4 separate regions of the Homo sapiens genome follow, and all the other regions are linked to region 3. The links come from fine-mapping of genetic effects on gene expression. A gene starts in region 3. Each other region holds a variant in brackets. All regions are shown on one strand. Distances are from middle to middle. Region 1 has its middle 9.0 kb from the start of PSMF1. Region 2 has its middle 25 kb from the start of DEFB126. Region 3 holds the start of RSPO4 (R-spondin 4). Region 4 has its middle 32 kb from the start of RSPO4.

Region 1 (4,166 bases), 110 kb before region 3:
TGTTCTTTCCCTATTGAATGGTCTTGGTGTCTTTGTTGAAAATCATTTGGCCATACATGTGAAGGTTCATTTCTGGGCTCTCTATTCTGTTCCATTGGTCTATATGTCTGTCTTTATGCCAGTACCATAATGTTTTGATTATGTAGCTTTGTAGTAAGTTTTGAAATCAGGAAGTATGAGGATGTCAATGAAGCAGATCACTTTTTAACACCTCCCTCCTCATCTATGAAATTATTTTCAGCAATAACCACATGATAATCAGTAAAAATTATTATTTCCCTGATTCATTCTTCAATGAAAAAATATATATGATTTTTTTTTGAGACAGAGTGTTGCTCTATCACCCAGGCTGGAGTACAGTAGCACGATCTCGGCTCACTGCAACCTCCGCCTCCTGGGTTCAAGAGATTCTCCTGCCTCAGCCTCCCAAGTAACTGGGATTACAGGCACGCACCACCAGGCCCAGCTAATTTTTGTATTTTTAGTAGAGATGGGGTTTCACCATGTTGGCCAGGCTGGTCTCGAACTCCTGGCCTCAAGTGATTCACCTGCCTTGGCCTCCCAAAGTGTTGGGATTACAGGCGTAAGCCACCATGCCTGGCCAAAAACATAATTTATAGATTGTACAACTCCCCCTTTTTAGTGTATAACTCTGAGTTTTGACAAATGCACACAGTCTTATAACCACCGTATTCTCTAGGTATTTCCAGAAAGAAAGGATTTTTAAAAATTCATCTCTATTGAGATAATTTACATACAATAAAATCACCCGTTTTAGTTGTATACTTCATGAGTTTTGCCTAATGTATAGACCAGCGTAACCACCATGACCAAGATATAGCATGTTTACATGACTCCAAAAAATTTCCTCATGTGCCTTGGCAGTTAATCTCTCCAGCCTCTAGCTGAGGTGTGTTAGTCCATTTTGCATTGCTATAAAGGAATACCTGGGACTGGGTAATTTCTAAAGAAAGGCACTGCAGGCTGTCTAGCATGACACCAGTATCTGCTTGGCTTCTGGTGAGGCCTAGGAAGCTTTCAATCATGGTGGAAGGCAAAGGGGAAGCATGCATGTCATATGGAGAAAGAGAAGGGGAGGGAGCAAGGAAGAGGTGCCAGGATCCTTTAAATAACCAGCTCTCACATGAACTAATAGAGTGAGAACTCACTCATTACCATGGGGAGGACACCAAGCCATTCATGAGGAATCTACCCCCATGACCCAAACACCTCCCCCTATGCCCGCTTCTAGCATTGGAGGTCACATTTCAGCAGGAGATTTGGAGGGGACAAAACATCCAAATCATATCACCAGGCAACCACTGATCTGTGTTTTTTGCATCTATATTTTTGGTATCTAATTTTGCCTCTCTTAAAAGTTCATATAAATGAAATGTATACAATGCCCCAGGAAGCAGATGTCAAGATGGAGTTAGCAGTGTTAGAGGTTTATTGGGGATAAGTCACAAAAGGAAAAGGGGAGTGGGAACAGGAGTATGTGGGGAGAACCTTCAGGCCTTTCTGCTGATCTGGCTCCTACAAAAGAAGAGAAGGAAGGAATAAGGATTAGTGAGAAAGTCTCAGCCAGCCCAACGGAGAACTCCAGCACCAAGAAATATCATAGAGAGTTCCCT[G/A]TTGGATTGAAATGGCCAGGCCTTAGTGCTGTCTCTGCTCGGTGGGCTGCCCGTAAAGAGCATGGCTTCAGCATGATCCCAGTGGTCCTATGGCCGGAGGACGTTAGCAAACTGCACTCCTCACAGCTGTGTGGCAATTATTTTCTTGAAGGTTTGGCACCCCTCCATAGTTGACACATAAAATAATACCCCTTCATGCCTTTTTTCACTCATCATCATGTCCAAACTTCATCCATGTTGTGTGTATCAGTACCTTCCTTTTTATTGAGTAATATTGTGTTGTATGGATGTGCCAGTTTGTCCAGTCCCTTATTGATGGGCATTTGGGTTGTTTCCAGCTTGGGATGGTGATGAGTAATGCTGCTGTAGACATACATGGACAGGTCTTGGTATGGCCTTATGATTTCACTGGTCTTGGATAAATTCCTAGGTGTAGAATTGCTGGATCTTATGGTAGAGTATATGTTTATAGGAAACTGCCAAATGTGTTCCCAAAATGGTCATACCATTTTCCACACCTGCCAACAATGAATGAGAGCCCTGGTTGCTTGACATCCAGCAGAAGGGGATTTAATGGGAAAAATATGATGCTTACTGAACCAGTGGATGGATTGGAATGTAAAGATTGGGGAAAGCTGCCACCAGCTTTCAGAAAGTCTGGACATTGCAGGAGCTTCAGAAAACCACCAGCAGTGATCACAGCTGCCTCCCATCCTGGGGCAGTCTGTGTGTATGTAGGGTGGTGGGGGGACCTGCAGAGGCTGCTGCCAAACTGAAACCTAAAACTCAAGATTCTGCCACTGCTGTTGGAGAAGCAATAATGTGCCCCTGCCTCTGCCTCCCAGTGGCTGGATCTAACTTGGAACCCAGCTGGCAAGTCATTCTGAAAAATGCACTTGTTAGGTTTCAGGCCTCTGAAATACTAAGGGAAGGCATAAAAGGTGTGAGTGTGAGTGTGTGTGTGTGGTGGGGGTCGGGGGGTAGTACTGGGGCTTTGACAAATTGCTCAATGTATATTGTCTCATTTAATTCCCAGAACAACACTTTAAGGTAGAAACTATTATTATCTTCGCTTTAAAAATGAGAAAAATAAGGGAGAAGTTGTGCCATTGTCCTAAGCAGCAGGGTCAGGATTTGAGCCAGGCGGTCAGCCTGCTTGCCTCCTCATCACAGTGCCATGCCTCCAACAGCATCACTAAGGGCTTGCGGGATTCTGAGCTCTGAGTTTCAAGATCTACACAGGAAAAGCCAAGAGTCATGACGAGGACCATTTTTCAGACCTCAGGGGCAGAAAAGGCTGGGAATAGAAAAAAGGGTCAAGGGTCCAGGCTGGGAACAGAGAAACGATCTAGGCATGGGAAGCTCCTCCAACCACAGGGACACATGAAGAGTCTCTGCAGAGACAAGGGAGGCCACAAGAGGGCACCCTGGCCCACCCAAATGTCCACAGATGGCAGCCACGCAGGGAGAGGCACACTCTCCTCCATCCTGACTTCATTCCACCAGGAGGTTCAGGGGAGCCCTAGACCAGAGCCCCCCCAGCAGGCTCTGTCCACACTGCAATCAGCCTTCACACCTGGAAATACCTGATTTTAGCTCTGGGGATCGTTGCCTTCAGGGAGAGACGGTCCCCAGAGAACCCAAGTCCTTGGAGGCACAGAGGGTCGGTTTCTGAGGCCACTCTCTTTCCTGTACCCCCTACTTCTCTTTGTCTCCATCCTTTCACAGACTTGGGCCTGATCCTTGCCTTGCCCCCATGCCACCCATGTCCAGCTCCAACTCCAAAGTTCCATCAGGCACTTGCCCACCTTGGTCAGGCAGGTGGGAGGGGTGACCAGTATTACCTTGAAAGGCTAGAAGCTCTGCCTGATGCTCCCCAAACCAGAACATCAGCTTCATGAGCACAGGGATTTGTGTCTGTTTGGTTCACTGCTATAGTCCTGGCACCTAGAACAGAGCCTGGCATACATAGTAGGTGCCCAATAAATATGTGATGAGTGAATAAATACATTAGCAGGTGCATAGTGTAGAAAAGTGTCTAGGCCTTGGAGTCAGGGAACCTGGGTTTACATCTCGGCCTCTTTGCTTACTCACTGTGCAACTTTGGGGAAATGGCTTATCAAATTGTCAAATAGGGGTTATAGTGGTGTCTCCCCAAGGGCTGTTGGGAGAATTTCTGAACATGATGTCAATAAAATGCCTCCCACAGTACCTGGCTCATGATAAGGGCCCCTAAGAGGTGGCTCATTATTTGAGATAATGAGGCCTTGGAAAACAGCACCTATTTATTGAGGATTTACTATGTGTCTGGCACTTGGCTCATGTTATCTAATTCAATTTTCATAACAACTTTTAAATGAGAAGTTAAGTAGCTCAGAGAACTTAAGCAACTTTTCCAGGGTCACACAGCTGAGAAGAACAAACTTGGGTTTAAGTCCAAGTCTTGAACCCTGCAGCATGCAAGTTTGCAAGTCAGACTTCCTGGGCTCAAATCCCGGCTTTTTCACTTACAAGCAGTATGACCCTGGGCAA
Region 2 (4,166 bases), 880 kb after region 3:
AGTAAATGTCATCCTAGAAATCCATATCCACAAAAATATTTTAAGAAGAAAATATAAATACAACCTTTTCAGATAGAGATAGCAGATCTCATGAAAGGAAATTCTAAAGGATGTTCTTTAGTTTAAAAAAATGACCACACATGGAAAGTATGTGATGAAGAAGCAACAAAAAAAGGGATAAAAGTGGATTAAACTGGCAGAATTAAATAAAGATGTTTTATAAGATTAAAAACATAATTAAATATCAAAATTCTGAAAATAGAATCAATTGGGAGCGTTAAATAGAATTAAAGTGGTCTATGTTCCATATATTATTCAGAGATTGGTAAATTTATGGATTAACTCTAGTTGCTAGACTGGATGAAAAATTAGATGCTATTTACAACAGATAAATGTAAAAACAAGATACGGAGAAGATTGAAAGTGGAAATATGGGAAAAAAACTTAACATGCAAATACCAACAAAAGGAAGTTATCTTACTTCTTAGTATTGAACAAAATAGTATTTAAGGCAAAAATTATCTTAGAGGAAAATGGGTTACTTTATAATGATAACTTGTTGGAGTCACCCAGAAAATAGAACTACCTATAATTGTCACGCATGCAATAATATTGTCTTAGTATTATATGAAAGTAAAATAAAGCAATAGAATATAAACTGGAGGCAGGTGAAATGGAGTTGTATTCCATGCATTGTCTGAGGAGAAATACACATTTTTGGTTAATATTAGATATTGATAGGTTAAGAATGTATGTCTTCATTTCTAGAGTGATGATGAATAGAAAAGGAGAATACATTAAAAACTAGTGGGGAGGAAAATGGAATTAAAGAACATCTGGTTTATACAGAAAGATTAAAAGAAAGGAGAAAAAAGAGAAATATAGAAAACTCAGGAAAATGTAAATCACGTTAAACAATGGCCAATTTAAAGCCAAACATAACAGCAATTAAGTTAAGATTAAATGGGCCTGAGAAGTTCTGTTCTTGGGGAGAAATCAGTAAATCACAGAAAAGCAATGCCTTTGATACAAAACCTAGAAAAGCTTGATTTTTATTAAAATAATATTTCCAAGGCATTAGAGAACCAGAGAAATTACTGGTACTAGAAGAGTTGATATTCTAAAGAGAGAACAGAACAGGCTTTCTGTTTCTGGAGTAGGTCAATAATTGCCAGCCATTTCCCCCATGGGTGCCTTTGTCAGTTTGGGACAGACGGGAAATCAGGCTTGGCCCAGAAAGAAAGGCTTTCTGGGAGGTAATTGAATCAGCAGAAGTAGCAGAGATTCTAGGAATTACAAATTGGAATTTCAGGTGCCCCAAATTTTAGTCCCCCCAATGGAGCATTGGAAAAGTAGAGCTTTGTGAGAGGTTGGAAAGCTCAGCTGAAACTTCCGAAAGGCAGTAAGAGATTTCTTGTACTCTTGTAGTGCTTAGGAAACAGATATGATAGTGATATGGAGCCTACCTCAAGCACACAGATAGTCTCCCCCTTGAGACATTACAGAAGTGCCTGAATCAGGAGGCTGAAGAGCAATGTTTGAAAACCATAAAGAACAGAGCTAGAATTCCCTCATTGTTTTTTTGGGCTGAAGATACTGAGACCAAACAGACCCTGAAGAAAAAGCCTGGAGGGCTATTCCTGAGAAACAGGACCAAACTAGATGTGGTTGGAATCATTACTAATACTGAAACCCAGCCCTGAA[C/T]CAGCTTAATGCCTTGTTATATTGAATTAGTCATGTCCTTATCTCTTTGCTATCTGGAGAAAGGGAGGACCTTTTATGTTTGAAGATAACATCACTTGGAGTCTCCAAAACCCATTTACCCAATGTTTGGCATACAATCAAAATAACATACCATAAAATGAAACTTATAAGCAATGGGGAAAAAAACCCGATAAAATTAGTGTAGTAGTCATTACATGTGAGATGGGTCTCTTGAACACAACAGATGGATGGGTCTTATTTTATGATCCAACTTGCCACTCTGTGCCTTTAAGTGGGGTGTTAAGACCATTTACATTCAAGGTTAATATTGATATGTGAGATTTTGATCCTGTCATGAAATTGTAAGCTGGTTGCTTTATAGTTCCTATTGTGTAATAGCTTTAAAGGGTCTATGTGCTATGTACTTAGGTGTGGTTTTGTGGTGGCAGATATTGTTCTTCCATCTTTATGTTTAGAACTCCAACTCCCTTAAGGATCTCTTGTAAGGCTGGTCTAGTGGCAATAAATTGCCTTAGTGATTGCTTGTCTGAAAAAGATCTTATTTCTCCTTCACTTATAAAGCTTAGTTTGGCAGGGTATGAAATTCTTGCTTGGAGTTTCTTTTCTTTGAGAATTCTTTAAATAGGCCCCCAGTCTCTTTGGGATTGTAGGGTTTCTGCTGATAAGTCTGCTGTTAGCCAGATGGGCTCACCTTTGTAACTCATCTGACACTTTTCTCTAGGCTGCCTTCAAGATTTTTTCTTTAGAATTGACCTTAGACTGTCTGATGACCCTATGTCTTGATGATGTTCACTTTGTATAGCATCTTGCAGGTGTTCTGTGAATTTATTGTATCTGGATGTCTACCTCTCTAGCAAGATAAAGGAAATTTTCTTGAATTATTCCCTCAAATATGCTTTCTAGGTTGTTTACTTTTTCCTCTTTCTCTCTTGAGAATGCCAGTAATTCATAGGTTTGGTCACTTTACATAATCCCATATTTCTTGAAGATTTGGTTCATTTTTCAAAATAACTTTTTCTTTATTTTGTCTGACTGGGTTAGTTTGAAAGACTGATCTTCAAGCTCTGAAATTCTTTCTTCTGCTACATCTAGTCTATTGATAAAACTTTTCATTGAATTTCGGAATGTCTTAAGTGAGTTTTTCACTTTCAGTAGCTCTGATAGATTTATTTTTAAGAGTTTACCTCTTCCTTTATTCTCTGGATTGCTTTACAGGTTTCTTTGTGTTGATTTTCAACCTTATCTTGAATCTCAAAGAATTTTCCTGCAATCTATGCTTTGAATTCTCCATCTGTCATCTCTCAGCTTCTATTTTGGCTAGGACCACTCCTGGAGAGCTAGAGTGAACCTTGTTGGTGTCACACATTCAGATTTTTCATGACAGCAGAATTCTTATACTAGTTCCTTCTTATCTGGAGGGGATTGTGTTGGGTAGGGCTTTTGGCTTTGTTTCTATAGTCCTACACACTTCTACCAGCAGGTTTTTTGATGGGCTGTCCAGTTTGACCTATAGACTGGTAGATGACATTTGCAAGTAACAGCCAGCTGTCCCATAAACAGATGGGTATAGATCTGATCTTTTTTTACTATTAGGGGCTCTCAGTTGTTTCAGGTGAAGGGCTGGACAGTGGGGGTGCCTGATGTACTGAGCTTCTTGTTCTGTGGGGATGGTGGGACAGAGCTGAGAAGAGCTGGTGCCCCTGGCTTGCCCATTAGTATACCAATGGCAAGCACAGGCACCAGCTCTGATGAGCGTGGCTGGGAGCAACTCCTGCACTGAGGTCTCTGTAGGGGCTTGTGGGCGAGAAGACTGCACCAGCTCCCCATCCTAGGTAGGTAGAAATGTGATCTGTTTCCTTATCACACCCTGTTTCAGGGCTCATGACTCCTAGTTCAGATGCACACTATAGTCTATCTCTGGACTGCAATGTGGTTGAGGGCCACAGGGAACACTTGTTTTATGATTCTCCATGAGAGTTGTTCAGGGTATAACCTCATCACTCAACCTGATACAGATAGCTTTAAGGCTCACTTATTCTATGATGGGGCATTACTGCTGCTTTTTGAGAAGGAAGGTCTCCACCTTTGGGTCCGTGCAGGTCGGTGTTGGTCATGGTGGTGTTTGCTGGTTGGGTAGGCCCAACCTCAGGCCCTGAGGAAATTGGTCAGGTGCCAACAGCACTGGAAGGGTATTGATAGTTTCTCAGCTGACAGGCCTCCAGAAGGCCTGCTGGACAGTGTGCATGGCCCTGAAGGGGCTGGACTGGGGTTATCTATCCCAGATTTCAGGTGCTGACTGTAATGGGGTGGGGGTGGGGTTCAGGCTGGTCCCTGGGTCACCAGCCAAACTCTCAGGCAGGGGAAGGTGGGATTCTTGGGTGGTGGGAACCCAGAAGAATATCACAGGCCTGTGGTGGGTGGGTTTTCGGAAAGGCTCTGGG
Region 3 (4,150 bases):
TAGGCACCCCCCAGTCCTGAAGGCTCAGTGGCCTCATCTGTGAAATGGAGCACTTTGGGTGGGCTGTCTCTGACATTCCACCAAGTTCTCCGTGTTGTCTGCCAGCGTTCTTGGGGCCCCACAGAAAGAATGGCCAGGCCAGGGCTGTACCTTCAGCTGCCACACTCTCTGTGTGTTTCCCCTGCCCCTGCCATGCCTTCAAGTGTCCCTCATTGCACTGGGAGAAGGAGCTGGAGGAGATACCAGCATTTACCTTCCATTTCTTTTGGAGCAAGCTCCACATGTAGGAAAAAAGAGGACAGGCTGGGTGGGGTGGCTCACGTCTGTAGTCCCAGCACTTTGGGAGGCTGAGGCAGGTGGATCACTTGAGGTCAGGAGTTCAAGACCAGCCTGGCCAACATGGTGAAACCCCGTCTCTACTAAAAACTACAAAAATTAGCTGGGTGTGGTGGCAGGTGCCTGTAATCCCAGCTACTTGGGAGGCTGAGGCAGGAGAATCACTTGAACCCAGGAGGCAGAGGTTGCAGTGAGCCGAGATGGCGCCATTGCACTCCAGCCTGGGTGACAGAGTGAAAACCCATCTCAAAAAAAAGAAAAAAAAAAGAAAAGAAAAAGGAAGGACAATTGTTCAGCAAGAGAGTGTCAACTGTAAGTTTCTCTAGGCCTCCCTCCAAGGCCTCTTCCATTCTGATGAGTCTGTGCCTGAGAAGTGGCTAAGAGGGGCAGGCACTGGACCAGAATGGCCACTGACCTGCTGTGTGGCCTTGGGCAAGTCACTTGGCCTCTCTGAGCTTCCCTTTGCTCCCCAGAAAAGTGGAATTACTCAGAATACAAACCCAAACCATTGGGTTGTTTTGAAGACTCTAGTATATGTCAAGTTCTTAGCAATGCCCACCATATATGCCTCACAAATGATAGCTAGCATGATTGTTGTTGTTTTTGGTGGTTATAGTGACAGGAGAGGTGAGCATGCTGTCGGGTTGAAGGAGGAATTTTGCTCTGAAAGGGTTAAACTTGAACCAGCTGCTCCCAGTCCTGGTGATAAGGTTGGAGGAAACACAGTCCAGGTCCCCAGCCCTGTCACAAGTGGATTTATGAGGTGCTGGTCACTTTGAGTCGGAGTAGATGATCCCCGCAGACTGCACAGGAAACATTCAGGGTTAGTGGCCAGAAGGGGCTCAGGCCTCTGTTAAAAGAATGAGACAGAGTAGAGAGAAAAAGAGAAAGCCAGGCAGCAGGAGCCCCGCAAACACCCCACCCTGCAGGAGGGGAGAAGGGGAGAGATGGGGTTGAAGGGAGAGACAGAGAAAAGGGAGAACCAGAGGCCCAGCCAGGAGGACACAGACAGTGAGCCTGAGAGAGAGACGGCCGGCAAGAGTAAAGGATGCAGGAACAGCCAGGCAGGGTCGGGGGCAGAGCAGGGGAGCGCGGGCCGCGGAAAGACCGAGAAAGCAGGAGACAAGGAGTTGTCCTTAAGGGCCAGAAGGAGGAACAGACAGAGAAAGGGGACTGGGGGGAGGGAAAGAAAATCACAGGCGCTGAGAGGGCGCGGGGGACCGTACGGGTCTCCGGGTGTCCGCGCATCTGTACCTGCGCGCGCGTGCGTACCTGTGGCTGGCGGTGGGCACGTGCACGTGCTCGGGGGCAGTGCTGGGGGCGGGAAAGACGCAAGACCGCCGGCTGCGGGACAGATCGAACTCGAGGGCCCCGACCCGGGTGACCCCCGCCCCCTCCCCGCGCGCGCTCCCGGGCCCCGAGCTGGTTAACGCGCCGCCCCCGCCGCGCCGGCTCCTCCCCGCCAGGGCAGTGCCCCGGCTCCGCCAACGCCCTCACTAGACCTGGCGGCCGGACCGACCCGCGCCTGGCGGATGCGCCCGGCGCGCCCACAGCAGCCCCCGCGCCCGCCGTGCCGCCGCCGGGACGTGGGGCCCTTGGGCCGTCGGGCCGCCTGGGGAGCGCCAGCCCGGATCCGGCTGCCCAGATGCGGGCGCCACTCTGCCTGCTCCTGCTCGTCGCCCACGCCGTGGACATGCTCGCCCTGAACCGAAGGAAGAAGCAAGGTACAAGGGGTGGCTGGGCAGGGCGGCCGGGCAGGCGCTGCGGGGCAGACCGGGGGCCGGAGGACCGGGGGCGGCGGCTCTGGGGGCATCTGCCTGGTGCCTGGCGCCCTGGGTCCTTCGCTCCTCCAGACGAGTCTCAACCTCACTTAAGATGGGGAGATTGAGGCTCCAGGGCACCCAGTGAGCGAGCCATTGAGTAGGGTGGGCCAAGGAGACTCACCCAGAAGGGAGAGGGTAGCAGGGCTCTCTGTAGTAGCCGCATGGTCAGCAGAAAGGAGGATGGCTTCGTGCAGAGACAGAAGACTCAAGAGCCAGCCTGCGGGGCACAGGGACTAGGAGACAGACTCAGTGGCGTAGAAGCCATTCCAAGCATCCATGCTCGGCCAGGAAGTGACATAGAGAGCCTTGGGCTGGGCGTCCAGAGGCCCCAGTCCCAGCCTCATCACTCACCCTGACTCCTGGTGTCACCTCCCAGAGGGCAGTGATCCTCCATGGCCCCCCTATGTTGAGTTCAGCCAGACCTGAGACCTGAGTTCAGGTTCACTTATTCTAATAGGGGATGACCTAGAAGAAGTCCAGCCCCTCAGAGAGCCTCAGCTTTTCCATCTTCACCTCTCAGGCCACTAGGAAGATGAGCCAAGGTTCAGATTATAAATGTACCAGGGGCCGCATGCGCTCTCACCTGGGAGTCCTATGCCACAGCCTCGCTGTGAGAGTCAGAACATCCTCAGAAGGTGGGTTGGAGGCTGTCCCTGCAGAGCAGGAGTTGGTAGAGCCTGTGCCTCAGAGAAGGGTAAGCGGGTGAGCAAGTGAGCAAATCGCCTGCCTGAGCTGGGCAGCCCTTTGGCCTCCAGGTGCCACTCTTAAGATCAGCAGCCGAATGCCAGCCACTATGCCACGGGTTTTTCATGTCCTAGCTCATCAAATCCCAACTATATGCTCATGACATAGGGGTCGTCCAGTTTTAATAAAGCCTGGGATTCCAAGGCTCAGACTGGTTTAAATAACTGCTGAATTGTCCAGCTGGTGTCTTCTCTCTTTCCAGCCCTGGCATCGGGTCTGAGCAAGGATAAAGGGGAAGGAAAATGAGAGAGGATGGGTTGCCCTCTGGGGCCTTCCATTTGTGTGAAAGCCCTACAGCGACACAGTCACTCCTGGAACGGAGCAGGAAGCAGACAGAGGCTGTGGGAGAATTGGGAGGTGGGATTGGATGGGGTTGGGGAGACTGTGGCCCAAGAGGCTCCAGTTCTTGCTGTGACAGTGGGACAAGGGACTAGAGAGGCGTGTGGTTTTCAGCTGAGCTGGGGTGAGTTTGGGACTCTATGGGGACACTCCTTTGTGAATGGCCTTTGTTTAGTAGTTAGGGGCATGGGCTCTGGAGCCAGGTCAACTGAGTTCAAATCCCAGCTTCCCCAGTTACCAACTGAGTGACTTTGGATAAGTCACTTTGCCTGTCCAATCCTCACTTTACCCATCTGAGGGTCCTTTAGAAGATCTCTGAGATCTTTCTCCATTCTAAACAATACCAAAAAATCAAACAAACCCCCTTTCCCTTCATCAACCCATCTTTTACTTAAGTATCCTGCTCATAAGGAGGATTGTGGGCAAGATGAGTAGCTAAGGACACAGGCTCCTAATGGGTGCTCGTAAGTATTAATCATTCTCATTTCCTGTCCACTGTGTCTTTGGCTACTCACAGTGGCTTAGTGGAGGGAGGGGAGAGATGCTTGTTTTCTGGATGAGGGAACTGAGGTTCAGAGAAGGAAACTGACTTGTCCAAGGTCGCACAGCAGGTGAGTAGCAAAGCAGGCTCGAATCCCAATCTGCCTGACATAATGCTGAGAAGATATCTTCTGAGGTGTGCTGGTCTTCCCTTCTCAGAGCCTCAGTTTCCTCATCTAAAGAGGAGCTGGTTTAGGCCAGGTGTGGTGGCTCACGCCTGTAATACCAGCACTTTGGGAGGCCAAGGCAGGCGGATCATTTGAGATCAGGAGTTTGAGACCAGCCTGGCTAACATGATGAAACCCTGTCTTTACTAAAAATACAATGATTAGCTGGGTGTGGTGGCGGGCGCCTGTAATTCCAGCTAC
Region 4 (4,166 bases), 32 kb before region 3:
AAAACATGGATCCACGCAATCACTGGCTCATTCATTTGTTCACTCAACAACTCTTTATTGAGCATCTACTGATGTACCAGGTGCTCACAGGCACCGAGTGTATGGAGGTGAAAAAGCAAAGCTCCCCCTGGTCATGGAGCCCATGATCTAGTGGGGTCGACAAACCTAAAGATAAATAAGTCAATCAAATCCATTGGCAGGCAGTCAGACATAAAACAAGTTAGTAGAGAGAAAGTGACAGGTGGGTGGGGATCCTCCAAGGAGGTGGCATCTGAGCAGGGACCTGCAGGTGGAAAGGGGTGAGCTGAAAACAGTGGCACTTAGCAGGGACAGGTCAACCTCATGCCTCCACCCCACTTTTCCTCCTCTAAGCTTTTTGGTCAAGGCTGCTCTCCACTCTCTGCCAAGCCAGCAATGACTTATCTGTATTCTCCTTAATACATAATTTGCTATTTTATTAACTGTATCAAATGCATTTGTAAAACTAGAACATGAAGCCACCTTGGCGTATAATGTAGGCTCTTACTCCAGTAAGAGTCACAAAACCCACATTGCTGACACACTTCTGTCCAATATAAGAGGGTGCTTTTTCCATTTAAAACTCTAATGAAATGGTGGCTTTAAGATAGTAGACTAAAGACATTTCTATTCCTTTTCTCTTCTTAAAAAAGAAAAAAACAAACAAAAAACTTCCCCAAAACAAGAATAAGGAGCAGAAACAAAAACTCTGTCTTTGAGGAAATCGAGAGACATTTGTAACCCTGAACTACAAAGGAGGGAAATGGATGAAGTGGCCAGTGACATAACCGAGAGGAAGAAAGTCAAAGCTAAATGGATGGGGTAGGTGACTGCTGTGTGGGTGGATTGCTGCATAGAGAAACAAGCCAATTTGCCTAAAGGCCTCAAAAATTGAAGCTACTAGGTCTTGGAGGAGCTGCTGGTGAAGTGGGGATTGAAAGCAATCTGTACAAGGAGCATGGGACCTCCACGTCCCCAACCCCCATCCTGCCCAGCCAGGTAGTAACCCCACTCACTTCTGGGCAAGCAAAGGGAGGTTTATTCTCTGAAAAAAAGGCAACAAAGAAACTCCAAAACTAGAAACATCAGGCCCAGAGAAGGTGAGATCTTCAGCCCCCTTCACCCGTCTCATTCTAGAATGTCCAACCCCAGGCAGAAAATTATCTGGAGAACCACTTCCAGGACAAAGACCTAAAGATACGGTAATTGGGGGTGGGAGGAGAGTGCATCACAGAAAAAGCCAACCAGCCCCTTTGCACCAGCCCTATGCAACCACCCTGCATGGACCCTACACAAAAGCCTACCAGTCCACCCTCCCCACCCAGTTTCCAGCCAGAGTGGTAATGTGAGTAGACAGCCAAGGATCATTAGAAATTTCTATCATGAAGTGCAGAGATCAAAGCAAACCATGAGGGCGGGGTAAAAGGTCTTCAAGAAAAGAATCCAGGGAACAAGAGAAAACTTAAAATAAATCCTACAATTAATATCCCTTGAGTGATAAAGATATTGCAGCAGTAAAATGTGAACAAGAAGCTCTCTGGAAGGAACAGAGAGTAAGAAACCAGAGATTAAAAATCTGTGCAGTAGATTGCACAAATGACCCCAAGTTTTTTCTGTCCCAGAATGCCTGCCACTTCCCAATGAAACTGCAGAACTTCCCATCATGGCATAGAATCTGGTTATCTATTGTTGCATGACAAACCATCACCAAAATTAGTGGATTAATTTTGTGGGTTAAAAACTGAGGGAGGGTGCAACTGGGTGATGATTCTGTTCCACGTGGTGTTGATGGAGCTCACTTAGTGGTCTTCAGCTGGTGGATGAGCTGGTCTGGAGGGCCCAAGATGACATCACTCACCAGTCTGGCTCCTTTGGCCCAGATGGCTGGAAGGCTGTCTCGACTGGATTGTTGAGTGGTGTGTTGACATGTAGCTTTTCCAGCACGGTGATCTCATACCTCTTCCTCAATGGCTGGCTTACCCCGGAGTGAGTGTCCCAGGAGAACCAGGTGGAAACTGTAGGGCCTTTTCTAACTTATCTTCAGAAGTTATGCCATGTCACTTTTGCTGCATTACTAAGGTACAGGCCCAAGCAAGGGAAGGTGTCATGAACCCTATCTGCTGATGGGACAAGTGTCAAAGGA[T/C]TGGTGCACATGTTTTAAAACTTCCATGCTACCAGGGGCTGTGCTCCACCAAAAAGAGGAACTAAACCAAGAAGAGGAACCATGAGCTTTTCCTGTGTAACAAATTGCCTGAAAACGGCCACCATTTATTCCCTTATGAACCTATAGCCCAGTAGTGGCGTGGGCTGGGCTCCATGTGGTCTTGGCTGGCTTCTCTCCTGTGTCTGCCGTCAGCTGGTCGTCAATGGCCTCACTCACATATATATGCTGGTTGGCTTGGCACAGCTGGGGTAACAGAGATGATTTAGCCATCGGTCTCTTATACTTCAGCAAACCAGCCTGGGTTTGCTGCCAGCCTGGTTGTGGTCACAGGGTTCCCCAGAGCTGAAAGGGCAAAGGCTCATATGCACAAGTAATTTTCCAGCTGCTGCTTGTGTCATGTTTGCCATTATGCCATTGGCCAAAGCAAGTCACGTGACCAAGCCCAGAGTCAATGTGAGAGGGGCTTGGACAAGAGCTTAGACACAGGCAGGGGAATGAATCTCTGTGGCTTTTATTTTGTAAATTTTCTATGATGAACTGAGATATAGCAGTCTGTGGTTTCAACACAGGAGAGACAAAGGAATTCCTAATGGTATCTGTGCCCCAAGTCTAGAGCAAAACTAGTCCAGATAGGCATCAAAGTTCAGAGCTCCAGAAAAAAAAATGGCAGCAGCATTAAATTATCAGACAGGTTTGTCTGTGAGGAAATCATGTTGAGGGATGTTTTACAGAGTGGTTTTCTGAGTGAGGGAAGACTTGGGTCAAATGTTCAAAGAAAGCTAAACAAACAAAAAGCACTTTTTAAAAGGGTATTGCTAAAGATGGTTTCTTTTTCTTTTTTCTTTTATTTTTTAATCATGCAATAGTTGGCCATATTTGGGGGGTATATGTGATATTTTGATACCTGTATACAACGCTTAAGAATTAAATCTGGGTGATTGGGATATTCATTACCTTAAAGATGTATCTTCATATGTAACATGGGGCAACACATCGGGTTCTCAGTCACGCATGGTGGCTCATGCCCGTAATCCCAGAGCTTTGGGAGGCTGAGGCAGGAAGAACATTTGAGCCCAGGAGTTCAAGGCTGCAGTGAGCCATCACTGTACCACTGCATCCCAGCCTGAGTGACATAGCAAACTCTGTCTCTAAAAACAACAAAAAAAATCTGGTCCTCAGGAGTGTCATGAGGGCCAGATGGGATCATGTGATCAGGCGACCAATGGGTCTTTAAAGATTTAGGTGTCCCATTCTTGTCAGTGAACATTGCCCCCAATATATTTAATATGTACATTTACAAAGTAAAAACATAATATATTATCAATCAATATATTATCATCTTATATGATATACACAAAATGAAAATTTTTAAAAGATGAGATCAAATATACAGATAGAATTACTAATTGTTTTTCTTGCAACCCAGTGGAGTATACTCTGCAATACATGGACTCCACTGAAAAAGGCTGGTCTAGGAGATAGTAAGTATTTAATAAACGTAAGCACTTAAAAATACAATTATTATTGTTAGATAAAACTCTTGTTCTTCTCCTAGACCACAAGCTCAGTGGAAGTAGAGACCAGATAAAGTTTCCCTGAAGTATACAGAATAGGAGTTCAACAAATGTTGTTGGTGGATGTGCCCAGGGTGAGAGAAGTGTAGCGGAAAGAGCACTGGGTTTGGGATTAAACAATCTTGGGCCCAAATTCTAGATTGGTCAAAAGCTCACTGTGTAGGCTGGGCACAGTGGCTCATGCCTATAATCCCAGCACTTTGGGAGACCGAGGCAGGTGGATTGCTTGAGGTCAGGAGTTCAAGACCAGCCTGGCCAACATGGCAAAACCTCTCTCTACTAAGAAAAAAAAAATAGCTGGGCATGGTGGCGGGCACCTGTAATCCCAGCTACTTGGGAGGCTGAGGCAGAGAATTGCTTGAACCTGGGAGGCGGAGGCTGCAGTGAGCCAAGATCATGCCACTGCACTC

What was found. PIP is the estimated chance that this variant, and not a neighbour inherited with it, causes the effect.
Region 1: its variant is the best candidate, but not a certain one, in a credible set for the expression of RSPO4 in whole blood (TOPMed, PIP 0.85).
Region 2: its variant is the best candidate, but not a certain one, in a credible set for the expression of RSPO4 in ovary (GTEx, PIP 0.66).
Region 4: its variant is the best candidate, but not a certain one, in a credible set for the expression of RSPO4 in whole blood (TOPMed, PIP 0.77).

What each region holds. Positions count from the first base shown.
Region 1 is chr20:1,107,511-1,111,676 of GRCh38, reverse strand. No RefSeq gene overlaps it. Among named protein-coding and RNA genes, the nearest start is that of PSMF1, 9.0 kb to the left of the region's middle. RefSeq lists an enhancer at 2,962-3,011. The variant G/A (reference allele first, on the strand shown) is at 1,635.
Region 2 is chr20:115,828-119,993 of GRCh38, reverse strand. No RefSeq gene overlaps it. Among named protein-coding and RNA genes, the nearest start is that of DEFB126, 25 kb to the left of the region's middle. The variant C/T (reference allele first, on the strand shown) is at 1,705.
Region 3 is chr20:999,996-1,004,145 of GRCh38, reverse strand. RSPO4 (R-spondin 4) reads left to right here and starts at 1,835. Exons shown (of 5, transcript NM_001029871.4): 1 at 1,835-2,060. The coding sequence starts at 1,982.
Region 4 is chr20:1,032,327-1,036,492 of GRCh38, reverse strand. No RefSeq gene overlaps it. Among named protein-coding and RNA genes, the nearest start is that of RSPO4, 32 kb to the right of the region's middle. RefSeq lists an enhancer at 2,367-2,416. The variant T/C (reference allele first, on the strand shown) is at 2,162.